Homo sapiens: one gene and its partners. The protein of the gene in region 1 interacts with the protein of each later gene in a pairwise test. Each region holds a gene or a part of one and is shown in the gene's direction. Other genes may lie near its edges.

Region 1 (3,650 bases):
TAATTTTTTTGTATTTTTAGTAGAGATGGGGTTTGACCATGTTGGTCAGGCTGGTCTCGAACCCCTGACCTCGTGATCCACCCGCCTCGGCCTCCCAAAGTGCTGGGATTATAGGCGTGAGCCACTGTGCCCGGCCTGGTTCAATCCACTTTTAATATTTACATTATTACGACTGTATAAGTAGTATTCATAGCTGAGCCTAATGCGTAACGATTATGTTTCCTTTCTTGCCCATTTTTTTTGCTTATGTCATTAAAGACTGTCTTTTTTGTTTGTTTGTTTGCTTTCAATGTATTCTCACATGCTCTGACAGAAGAATAAATCTCCTAGCTATACTGAAACACACCGATAACTTGCTGGTTTGTGTCATGGATTCTTCCTTCTGGATGCTAGTCCACTCTGGACACTTGTTCTCCAGTCCTGTTGCGTTCCTGATATTTGCTATTTCCCATTCCCATCATCCTGATAATTTCCTTTACATCTCTCCTGTATCGATTCTCTGTTTGCTGGATCTCATGTCCTCTTTTTTGGTGCACGCCTTTGTTTTCCTGAAGCATGTCCTTGCATAGCCTCCTAAGTAAGGACCCATAGGAGAAAATTATTTGGACATATTTGAAAAGGTCTTTATCATACACTTACATTCATTTGATGGTTTGACTGAGTATAGAATTTTTAGTATCTCTCATTCATACTCTGCTAACATCTAAGTATTCCTGCCAAAATAGCCACTCTGTTCTGATTCCCAATCCTTTGTATTGTATGACCTCTTTCCCTGTTTTTTGTTTTGTTTTGTTTCATTTTTGTTGTTGTTGTTGTTCATTAGAAGCTTATAAGGATCATTATTTTATTCTCAGTAACCTGAAATTTCACAGTGATGTATCTTGTCATATGAATCTAGACACCGGGCAGCTCTTTAAAGCTGGCAACTAGTACCTTCACTTTGGAGAAGTTGACTTATATTACTTTTTTGATACTTTCCATTACAATGTTTTTTCTATTCCACATTTTTTTAAAACTCTTGTTATTCAGATGTTGGACTTCTTGTATTAAGTCTCTAATTTTTTATGTGTTGCTTTATTTTTTTCCCCCCCATTTCGTTTTCTTAAATTTAGCTTTCTCGGGGGTTCTCTGTTTTATCTTGTGGATTTAAAAATTTCTGTTGCGTTATTTTTGATTTATGAAGTCTTTTTGTTTGTTCATTTTTTCATAGCACTCTGTTTATGTTTCACAGATGCTTTTTTTTTTTTTTTTTTTTAGACAGAGTCTCACTGTCTCCCAGGCTGGAGTGCAGTGACACTATCTCGGCTCATTGCAAGCTCTGCCTCCCGGGTTCACACCATTCTCCTGCCTCAGCCTCCCGAGTAGCTGGGACTACAGGCGCCCGCCACCATGCCCGGCTAATTTTTTGTATTTTTAGTAGAGACGGGATTTCACTGTGTTAGCCAGGATGGCCTTAATCTCCTGACCTCATGATCCACCTGCCTCAGCCTCCTAAAGTGCAGGGATTACAGACGTGAGCCACCGCGCCTGGCCTTTTTTTTTTTTTTTTTTTTTTTGAGATGGAGTCTCGCTCTGTTGCCCAGGCTGGAGTGCAATGGTGCAATCTCAGCTCACTGCAACCTCTGCCTCCCGGGTTCAAGCAATTCTCCTGCCTCAGCCTCCTGAGTAGCTGGGATTACAAACGTGCTCTACCACACCTGGCTAATTTTTATTTTATTTATTTATTTATTTTTTAAATAAAGACAGGTTTTCACCATGTTGACCAGGCTGATCTCAAACTCCTGACCTCAAGTGATCCACCTGCCTTGGCCTCCCAAAGTGCTGGGATGACAGGCGTGAGCCACCCCACCTGGCCAATTTTAAAAAAATCTAGGCCAGGCTCGGTGGCTCACGCCTGTCATCCCAGCACTTTGGGAGGCTGAGGTGGGCAGATCGTGAGGTCAGGAGATCGAGACCATCCTGGGTACCTGGGTAACATAGTGAAACCCTGTCTCTACTAAAAAAAAAAAAAAAAAAAAAAAAAAATTAGCGGGGCGTGGTGGCGCGTGCCTGTAATCCCAGCTACTCGGGAGGCTGAGGCAGGAGAATCACTTGAACCTGGGAGGCGGAGGTTGCAGTGAGCTGAGATTGTGTCACTGCACTCCAGCCTGGCAACAAAGCTAGACTCCGTCTCCAAAAAAAAAAAAAAAAAGAAAAGAAAAAATATATGTGAGGATATCATTGTTTTCTTTTAATTTTTTTTTCTCCTTCCCATACTATCTCTTATTTCCTTCAGATTTCTCTCTACCTGCTAGTTTGTTTGGTATAACTGTTATGTTGGGGGCTTTCCTCAGATGTGAGGTGACCCTTGTTTGTCTGCCCATTTTTAACAGAAAACACCAAAAAGCCAATGGAAGAGGCCGGGTGCGGTGGCTCACGCCTGTAATCCCAGCACTTTGGGAGGCCAAGGCAGGCGGATCACTTGAGGTCAGGAGTTTGAGACCAGCCTGGCCAACCTGGTGAAACCCCGTCTCTACTAAAAATACAAAAATTGGCTGGGTGTGGTGGCACGTGCCTGTAATCCCAGCTACTCGGGAGGCTGAAGCAAGAGAATCACTTGAACCCAGGAGGCAGAGGTTGCAGTGAGCCAAGATTACGAGATTCCATCTCAAAAAAAAAAGCCAGTTGGAGAATCTGTGTGTACATAAGGGGCTTGGTCCCAGACTCTATGTAGAGTTAAGGAATTCCCACCTGTCAGAATCTGCAGGTTTTTCATCTCATACTGGCCATTTTCCTGAAAGAGGAATCGTCCTCATTTCCTAACTGGATGGGGGATAGGGGTGCAGGTACAGAGTTGATTCCTAGAGTCTGAAAAGCTTCCTCTGGGGAAAGAGAGTTGGGGGAAATCTTGTATTTTATATACAGACTTTTACTTAATCCCCACCCTCAGCTGTGTGCAGTGTTCTCAGATATAGTCCTCTGGTCAACCTCTGCAGAAGGGAAACCTCTAGCCTGCTGAAAGTTGTAACTGTTAAAGGCTTGTAACTGATTCTCCTATTTTAGCCCCACCAGCCCCTCTACCTTTAGATGTACATGAACATTCCCAAAATTCTACCAAGGGAATCGGCCTTTGCATTACAATTGGTAAAATGTTGTTGCCCTTTGACCTCTGTTGTCTGCTGTCATCTTTACCTAGCCTACTTTTTAGGTATATATACCCGCTAAAAAAAAAAAGTAACTATTATTTGGTGGTTTACAAAGAACCAGTAATAAAACACAATTGTTAAATGTTTTATTTTTAAGTGGAAGTCTTTTTTTTTTTTTTTTTCGAGACAAGGTCTTGTTCTGTCACCCAGGCTGGAGTGCAGTGGCACAAACACAGCTCACTGCAACCTCAGCCTCCTGGGCTCACGTGATCCTCCCGTGAACTTAGCCTCCCAGGTAGCTGGGACTACAGACGTGCCTAATTTTCTTTTTCGTTCTTTCTTTGTTTGGCAGAGATGGGGTCTCACTAAGTTGCCTAGGCTTGTCTCAAACTCCTGGGCTCAAGCTCAGCCTCCTAAAGTGCTGAGATTACAGGCATGAACCACTGCACTTAGCCAAATTGGAAGTCTTAATTAGGAAGAATTATAGTTCAAATCTGTATGTTATATAAAAAAATACAGTACAAC
Region 2 (3,650 bases), on another chromosome or scaffold:
TTTTGTATTTTTAGTAGATACGGGCTTTCACTGTGTCAGCCAGGATGGTCTCGATCTCCTGACCTCACGATCTGCCTGCCTCGGCCTCCCAAAGTGCTGGGATTACAGGCGTGAGCCACTGCGCCCAGCCTAAATGTATGCATAATACTTTCTAGGGTGCAGTGAACGTGGACTGCTTATGTTATATAGCTTTATATCGTCACTATTTTTTCTGAGTATTCTCATAGACAAAATTACGTTCTATAGGAATTTATAAAGTATAAATTTATAAAGTGAATGATACTACATTGAGTGGATGGACTACGTTTTGTTGATTCGTCTGTTGGCAGACGCGGGTTGTTTCTACTTTTTGGCTATTGTGAATAATGTTCATTGGCATATGACTTATTTGAGTCCCTGCTTTCAGTTTTTTGGGGTATATTCTTAGGATTGGAATTGCTGGGTCATATGGTAATCCTAATTTGTTTTTAGTTTTAATTTTTTTAATTAAAAAAAGTTTGTATTTTTACATTTGTATAGATGGGGTCTTACTGTGTTGCTCAGGCAGGTCTCGAACTCCGGTCCTCAAGCTGTCCTCCTGCCTTAGCCTCCCAAAATGTTGGGATTACAGACCTGAGTCATTGTACCGGCTCTCATTTTTGTTGTTGTTGTTTTTGAGACGGGGCCTTGCTCTGTCTCCCAGCCTGTATTGTAGTGGCGCAATCTTGGCTCACTTCAACCTTTACCTTTCCAGTTCAAGCGATTCTCCTCCCTCAGCCTCCCAAGTAGCTGGGATTGTGTGTGCACCACCATGCCTGGCTAATTTTTGTAGTTTTAGTGGAGAGGGGGTTTCACCACGTTGGCCAGGCTGGTCTCGAACTCCTGACCTCAGTGTTCCACGCACCTTGGCCTCCCAAAGTGCTGGGATTACAGGCGTGAGCCACCATGCCTGGCCTTGTTTTTATTATTTATTACTACTATTTATTTTATTGTTATTTTATTATTTATTTATTTTTTTGAGATGAAGTTTCACTATGTGGCCCAGGCTGGTCCTAAATTCCTGGGCACAAGTGATCCTCCCACCTCCACCTCCCAAAGTGCTAGGATAACGGGCATGAGCCACCATGCCCAACCCCCTTTTGTTTTTACAGTTATTTTTTGCCTGTTGCAATGTGCTTATTTTCCCAGCTGAACCTTAAATATTTTATGACATAACTAATATGTAAATAGACTGCCTTTATAAACAATTCATTGATACAGACAAAACTGAATATCCTCATCTCTCCTGTTACTCAGGAGCAGTCCAGTTAACTAGTGTGATGTGTATTTTTTTAGACATTTTTATGAGTGTATCTACACGGAGACTAACGTGGTTGGTTTTGTGTGTGTTTTCTGTGGTAAGTGGCATCCCATGTGTGTTATTCTGCAGCTCCCTTTTGTGCTTAATTGTGACTTCGCAAACTTTCTGTCTCTGTATGTGTGATCAGCTGGTGAGAATCATCTCACCAAATGCCAACAAGGCCAAGTTTGTGAGTTCTATGAAGCAAAGTTGTTAATTAAAAAAAAGGGGCCGGGCGCGGTGGCTCACGCCTGTAATCCCAGCACTTTGGGAGGCCAAGGTGGGCGGATCACCTGAGGTCAGGAGATCAAGACCATCCTGGCTAACACGGTGAAACCCCGTCTCTACTACAAATACAAAAAATTAGCCGGATGTGGTGGCGGGCGCCTGTAGTCCCAGCTGCTCAGGAGGCTGAGGCAGGAGAATGCATGAACCCTGAAGGTGGAGATTGCAGTAAGCTGAGATCTCACCACCGCACTCCAGCCTGGCTGACAGAGCGAGACTCTGTCTCAAAAAAAAAAAGGGGGAAAGAGCAAATACATGCTTGTGAGACAGGTAAGGGAGATGAATACTGCTGCTGCCGCAGCCAGAGACCATGCAGTTAGCAGACGTGTGGGTGGAGAAATCACTGTCGTGCAAAGGACAGGAGCTCCTGGTGCCTTTGAATGGTCTGTTGTGCTTACTGCATTTGAGTTTTCAATCCCATTTCCTTTGGTTTCCTGATATACTCACACATGGCGGTTGTGGACTGTTTTCCAGGCATCTGCAGCCCTGGCTAGAAAGAAGGGGAAAAGTTTGCATAAAGACATGGCTATCTTTTGGCACAGGAAGAAAATAAGTGAGTTTTCAATTATTCTTTTCACTTTTTAAAAAAATTATTTTTATTTATTTTATAGAGATGAGATCTCGCTATGTTGCCCAGTCTGATCTTGGGATTACAGGCATGAGCCATTGTGCATGGCCCTCTTTTCAGTTTCTCATGCTCTTGGTCCAAACCCTTTGAGCGTGAGCCCTTTCCCCAGCCAGTGGAGGAGGCTGGCTCTCAGTGGATTTGCATCTCACAGTTATTTCCTTGGGCTCTTCTCTAACCTCCTGTGACAATGAAAATAATATTACTTTCTTAGAAACAGAGTGAAAAAATCCAGTTCCAGGTGATCTGTGATTGCATAAACTCTTTTCTGCCTCCTATGTCCACAGGCCCCAATAAGAAACCCTTTTCCCTGAAGGAGAAGAAACCAGGTGACGGTGAAGTCAGCCCGAGCACAGAGGATGCACCCTTTCAGCACTCTCCTCTTGGCAAGGCCGCAGGGAGGACTGGTGCTAGCAGCCTCCTGAATAAAAGGTGGGATCGGTCCCTCCTAATGACCTTATTCCGGAAGGACCAGGAAATAGCGCCCTATAGCGACACCTGAGTCAGGGTGCAAGACTGTGGGGAGTGGTGAGGAGACAAAAGCCAGTTGCTAGGGATGGTTGGGGGTGGAGGGGCAGGGGCTCTGCCCCTCCTGCCAGCATGGGCCGTTAGGAGGTGGGTCTGTGTGGGGCTGGTGGTCCCAGCCAGAAGAGAGAATTTTCTGACACTGGTAACTGCCAGCTGCAGAGATGGTGGAGAGCAGTGATTCTGTCCTGTCTTGTTCTCATATACCCTAGGGCCAAGGTTGCTGAGAAAGCCTTCCTTTGGGGCTGGCCTTTTTTTCTTGTTTCCATCTTGGCATTTTCTATGGGAGAATCTCATCACACAGTTGTTATAGCTGGTACAGACCTTTCAGCTGCAGCTACAGGAGATCCAGGGGAGGCTGCTCACTTAGGACAGCAGAACTTCTGTCCTTGCACAGAGTGCCTGCTCTGTGGGACACACGCAGGCTGGCGCCCTGTGGCGGGTCGCTGCCTGCCTCACAGGATTGTAGTAGGAAATCTCCTTGCTCATCTAACTCGTCCTGAATCCCACTGCAGTTAAGTGCAGTTCCACTTGACATATAAATGTATAAGCAATAACTTTTTACCTCAAGACATTTAACTGGCTGTAATAAACCATGCATTCCTTTTTTTTTTGAGACACAGTCTGGCTGTTGCCCAGGTTGGAGTTCAGTGGCACGATCTTGGCTCACTGCAACCTCTGCCTCCTGGGTTCAAGAAATTCTCCTGCCTTAGCCTCCCTAGTAGCTGAGATTACAGGTGCGCTCCACCACGCCCAGCTAATATTTTTGTATTTTTAGTAGAGATGGGGTTTCACCATGTTGGCCAGGCTGGTCTCGAACTCCTGACTAGAGATGCATGCCCGGCCAAACCATGCATTTCTAATAATCACTTTCAGCAGTTTCCAGCATTACTTTTT
Region 3 (3,650 bases), about 61 Mb from region 1:
CCTTGCAGCCTGCTGGGTGATGGTGGGGGAAGGGCTATCTTGGGTGACTCCCCGCTCCTCCAGGTACTGGATCTCCGCCTTCCCAGCGGAGTTTGACTTGAACCCGGAGTTGGCTGAGCAGATCAAGGAGCTGAAGGCTCTGCTAGACCAAGAAGGGAACCGACGGCACAGCAGCCTAATCGACATAGACAGCGTGTGCGTGGGGGGAGCACAGAGGGCTGGGGGGGCACTCAGTATCCTATACCATCTGTGCTTAATAAATGTCTGTTGAACTGAATGAGTGAGGGTCATGTTGCTCTCTCGCTTAAAAACCTTCCATGGCTCCCTATTGCCTTCAACATGCCTCCTCTGGGCAGCTTGGCGTTCCTGCCTCATCTTCCACTGCCACCACCCATCCCACACACCTCCTCCTGTAGCTGCGCTGGGTCGGCTCCCCGTCGGCTGAGCTCTCGAGTCCTTTCTCATCATGGTGCTCTGCTCATATCATCCCCCTTGCTGCCTCCTCCGTGTTACCAAGACTCAGTTCAGGCATGAAGTCTCCGTGGGCTCTGAGGGTTCGGGGCTCTTCCGGGGTAGAATTTGTCGTTCCCACCTCTGTTTTCCATGGCACTTTGTACAGACTCCTGTACAAAGACCTCTGTACATGTGTCACGCTGTTTTGTGATCATGTGTTTCTGTGTCTGTCTCCCTCAGTAGACTGTGAGCTCCTCGAGGGCAGGAACCGTGTCTTACTCATCTCTGTATTCCCAGCGCCTAGCACAGTGCCTGGCACAGAGTACGTTGTTCATAAATGTGTGTTGAGTGCATGACGGGGTCGGGGGAGATGAGGAGGAGTTGCTGGGACTGGGAACATTCGTGCCTAGGACAGTGCCTCGCATTATGTAGGTTCTCAGTAAGCGTGAATGGTGTGTCTGTGTGAGTGGGGGGCCACGAGTCATGCGCATGTCCAGCAAAGGGCTCACTACCCCTGCCCCCCCAGCCCTACCTACAAGTGGAAGCGGCAGGTGACTCAGCGGAACCCTGTGGGACAGAAAAAGCGCAAGATGTCCCTGTTGTTTGACCACCTGGAGCCCATGGAGCTGGCGGAGCATCTCACCTACTTGGAGTATCGCTCCTTCTGCAAGATCCTGGTGCGGCCCGAGGGCTGGGGGGTCAGGGGTCCAATGTGGGCTGGAAGAGAGTTCTAGGAGGGGCAGGGTCCCTGGCGTAGGCTGGGTCACAGGGTGCATCAGGGGTTTCAGTGTAACCACTGAAGGTCAGCTGGAGGGTGAGGAGTGGCTATCAGTGAGGGGAGAGGCCAGCAAGGTGCTGAGGCCACTCCTCATGCCCCCAGTTTCAGGACTATCACAGTTTCGTGACTCATGGCTGCACTGTGGACAACCCCGTCCTGGAGCGGTTCATCTCCCTCTTCAACAGCGTCTCACAGTGGGTGCAGCTCATGATCCTCAGCAAACCCACAGCCCCGCAGCGGGCCCTGGTCATCACACACTTTGTCCACGTGGCGGAGGTGCCTGCCCCTCCCTCCCGGTGTCTCCCAACCACCCCACATGCCAGTCAGGCCAACCCTTCCCTTCCCCTAACCCACTGCCTTCTCTCTAGATAAGCTGGGCCAAATTCTGGGCCCACTCAGTGACTCCCTGCCTCTCCGTCCCCATTTGCCTTCCAGAAGCTGCTACAGCTGCAGAACTTCAACACGCTGATGGCAGTGGTCGGGGGCCTGAGCCACAGCTCCATCTCCCGCCTCAAGGAGACCCACAGCCACGTTAGCCCTGAGACCATCAAGGTGCCTGGGACTGGGGAGGGGCCGGTGCTTCCCAGGTCTGTCTTCACTGGGTCCTCCCAGCAGCACTGGGGGCTGGGCACAGCTGTCCTCATTTGATAGATATGGAAATGGAGGCTCAGAGGGGTTAAGTGCTTTTCTCAGTTTGCACAATGGCAACAGCAGAGTGGGGGCTCACAGGTCGTCAGGGACCCCAAAGCTAGTACTTTTTTTTTTTTTTTTAAGACAGGGTCTCTCTCTCTGTTGTCCAGACTGGAGTTCAGTGGTGCAGTCACAAGCTCACTGCAGCCTTGAACTCCTGAGCTCAATCGATCCTCCCACCTCAGCCTCCTGAGTAGCTGGGACTACAGGTGTACGCCACCATGCCTAATTTTTGTATTGTTATTAATTTTTTTTTTTTTTTTTAGAGATGGGGTTTTGCCATGTTGCCCAGACTGGTCTTGAACTCCTGGGCTCAAGTGATCCGCCTGCCTTGGCCTCCCAAAGTGCTGAGATTATGGCTTGAGCCATTGTGCCTTGCCACTTGTAGTTTCTTCTTTTCTTTCTCCTTCATTTTTTATTATTTTTGAAGTATTTTGAAGTATTGAGTAACATACATATAGAAAAGTATATAAAAACATATGAGACTGGGCGTAGTAGCTCACACCTGTAATCCCAGCACTTTGGGAGGCTGAGGTGGGCAGATCACGTGACATCAGGAGTTTGAGACCAGCCTGGCCAACAAGGTGGAAACCCATCTCTACTAAAATACAAAAATTAGCCAGGCATGGTGGCACGCACCTGGAATCCAAGCTACTTGGGAGGCTGAGGCAGGAGGAGAATTACTTGAACTCAGGAGGCGGAGGTTGCAGTGAGCCAAGATTGTGCCACTTCACTCCAGCCTGGGCGACAGAGTGAGACTCCATCTAAAAAAAAAGAAAAGTATATAAAAACATATGAATAGTTTAAAGAAAAATTGTAAAGAAAACACTGTGTAACTACTGCCCGGGTTGGGAAATAGAACCTTGCCAGGCCCCCAAGCGCCCAGCACTTTAGAGCATAACTCCCTCCCCACGACTTTTGCAATGATGATCTTGCTTTTCTTTATAGCTTCACCATGTAGGTATGCGGTCCAAAACAATGTGGGGCTTTTTGTTGTCTGTTTTGAACTTTCTATGAATGGAATGTTGTTTGTGTTATTTTATGTCTTGCTTTTTTCATTCCACATGGTTCTGAGAGTCTTTTCATTCTGTCATGTGGAGCAATTGTTTTTTCATTTTCATTGCCATATAATATTTTATTGTACGTCTACCCCAATTCATTTATTTATTTATTTTTTTGAGATGGAGTCTGTCTCTGTCATCCAGGCTGGAGTGCGGTGGCGAGATCTCATCACTGCAACTTCCGTCTCCTGGGTTTACGTGATTCTCGTGCCTCAGCCTCCTGAGTAGCTGGGATTATGGGCTCGTACCACCACGTCTGGCTAATTTTTTGTAGAGACAGGCTTTCACCATGTTGCCGAGGCTGGTCTTGAACTCCTGAGCTCAGGCAATCCACCCGCTTTAGCCTCCCAAAGTGCTGGGATTACAGGTGTGAGCCACTGCCCCCAGCCTACCCCAATTTATGTATTGATTCTATTGTTGAATGTTGGGGTTTTTCCTTTTCTTTTCTTTCTTTCTTTTTCTTTCTTTTTTTTTTTTTTTTTGAGATGGAGTCTTGCTCTGTCGCCAGGCTGGAGTGCAGTGACGCTAATTTGGCTCACTGCATCACTGCACCCTCTGCCTCCCGGGTTCAAGCGATTCTCCTGCCTCAGCCTCCTGAGTAGCTGGGACTACAGGCATGCACCACCACACCCGGCTAATTTTTGTATTTTTTTAGTAGAGATGAGGTT

Evidence for each region.
Region 2: the proteins of FAM118B (region 1) and MCM3AP interact in a two-hybrid assay, tested with the Homo sapiens proteins (one large-scale study listed by BioGRID and IntAct).
Region 3: the proteins of FAM118B (region 1) and RASGRP2 interact in a two-hybrid assay, tested with the Homo sapiens proteins (one large-scale study listed by IntAct).

What each region holds. Positions count from the first base shown.
Region 1 is NC_000011.10:126,235,683-126,239,332, forward strand, and holds part of FAM118B (protein FAM118B), read left to right. Parts: intron 1-247; exon of another isoform or gene 248-389; coding exon of another isoform or gene 390-573; intron 574-3,650. Other genes in the region: SRPRA (signal recognition particle receptor subunit alpha), read right to left, coding at 390-573. UniProt on the Homo sapiens protein: May play a role in Cajal bodies formation.
Region 2 is NC_000021.9:46,279,003-46,282,652, reverse strand, and holds part of MCM3AP (germinal-center associated nuclear protein), read left to right. Parts: intron 1-2,077; coding exon 2,078-2,156; intron 2,157-2,515; coding exon 2,516-2,660; intron 2,661-3,650.
Region 3 is NC_000011.10:64,737,493-64,741,142, reverse strand, and holds part of RASGRP2 (RAS guanyl-releasing protein 2), read left to right. Parts: intron 1-63; coding exon 64-195; intron 196-693; exon of another isoform or gene 694-775; intron 776-979; coding exon 980-1,130; intron 1,131-1,333; coding exon 1,334-1,507; intron 1,508-1,666; coding exon 1,667-1,783; intron 1,784-3,650. UniProt on the Homo sapiens protein: Functions as a calcium- and DAG-regulated nucleotide exchange factor specifically activating Rap through the exchange of bound GDP for GTP. May also activate other GTPases such as RRAS, RRAS2, NRAS, KRAS but not HRAS.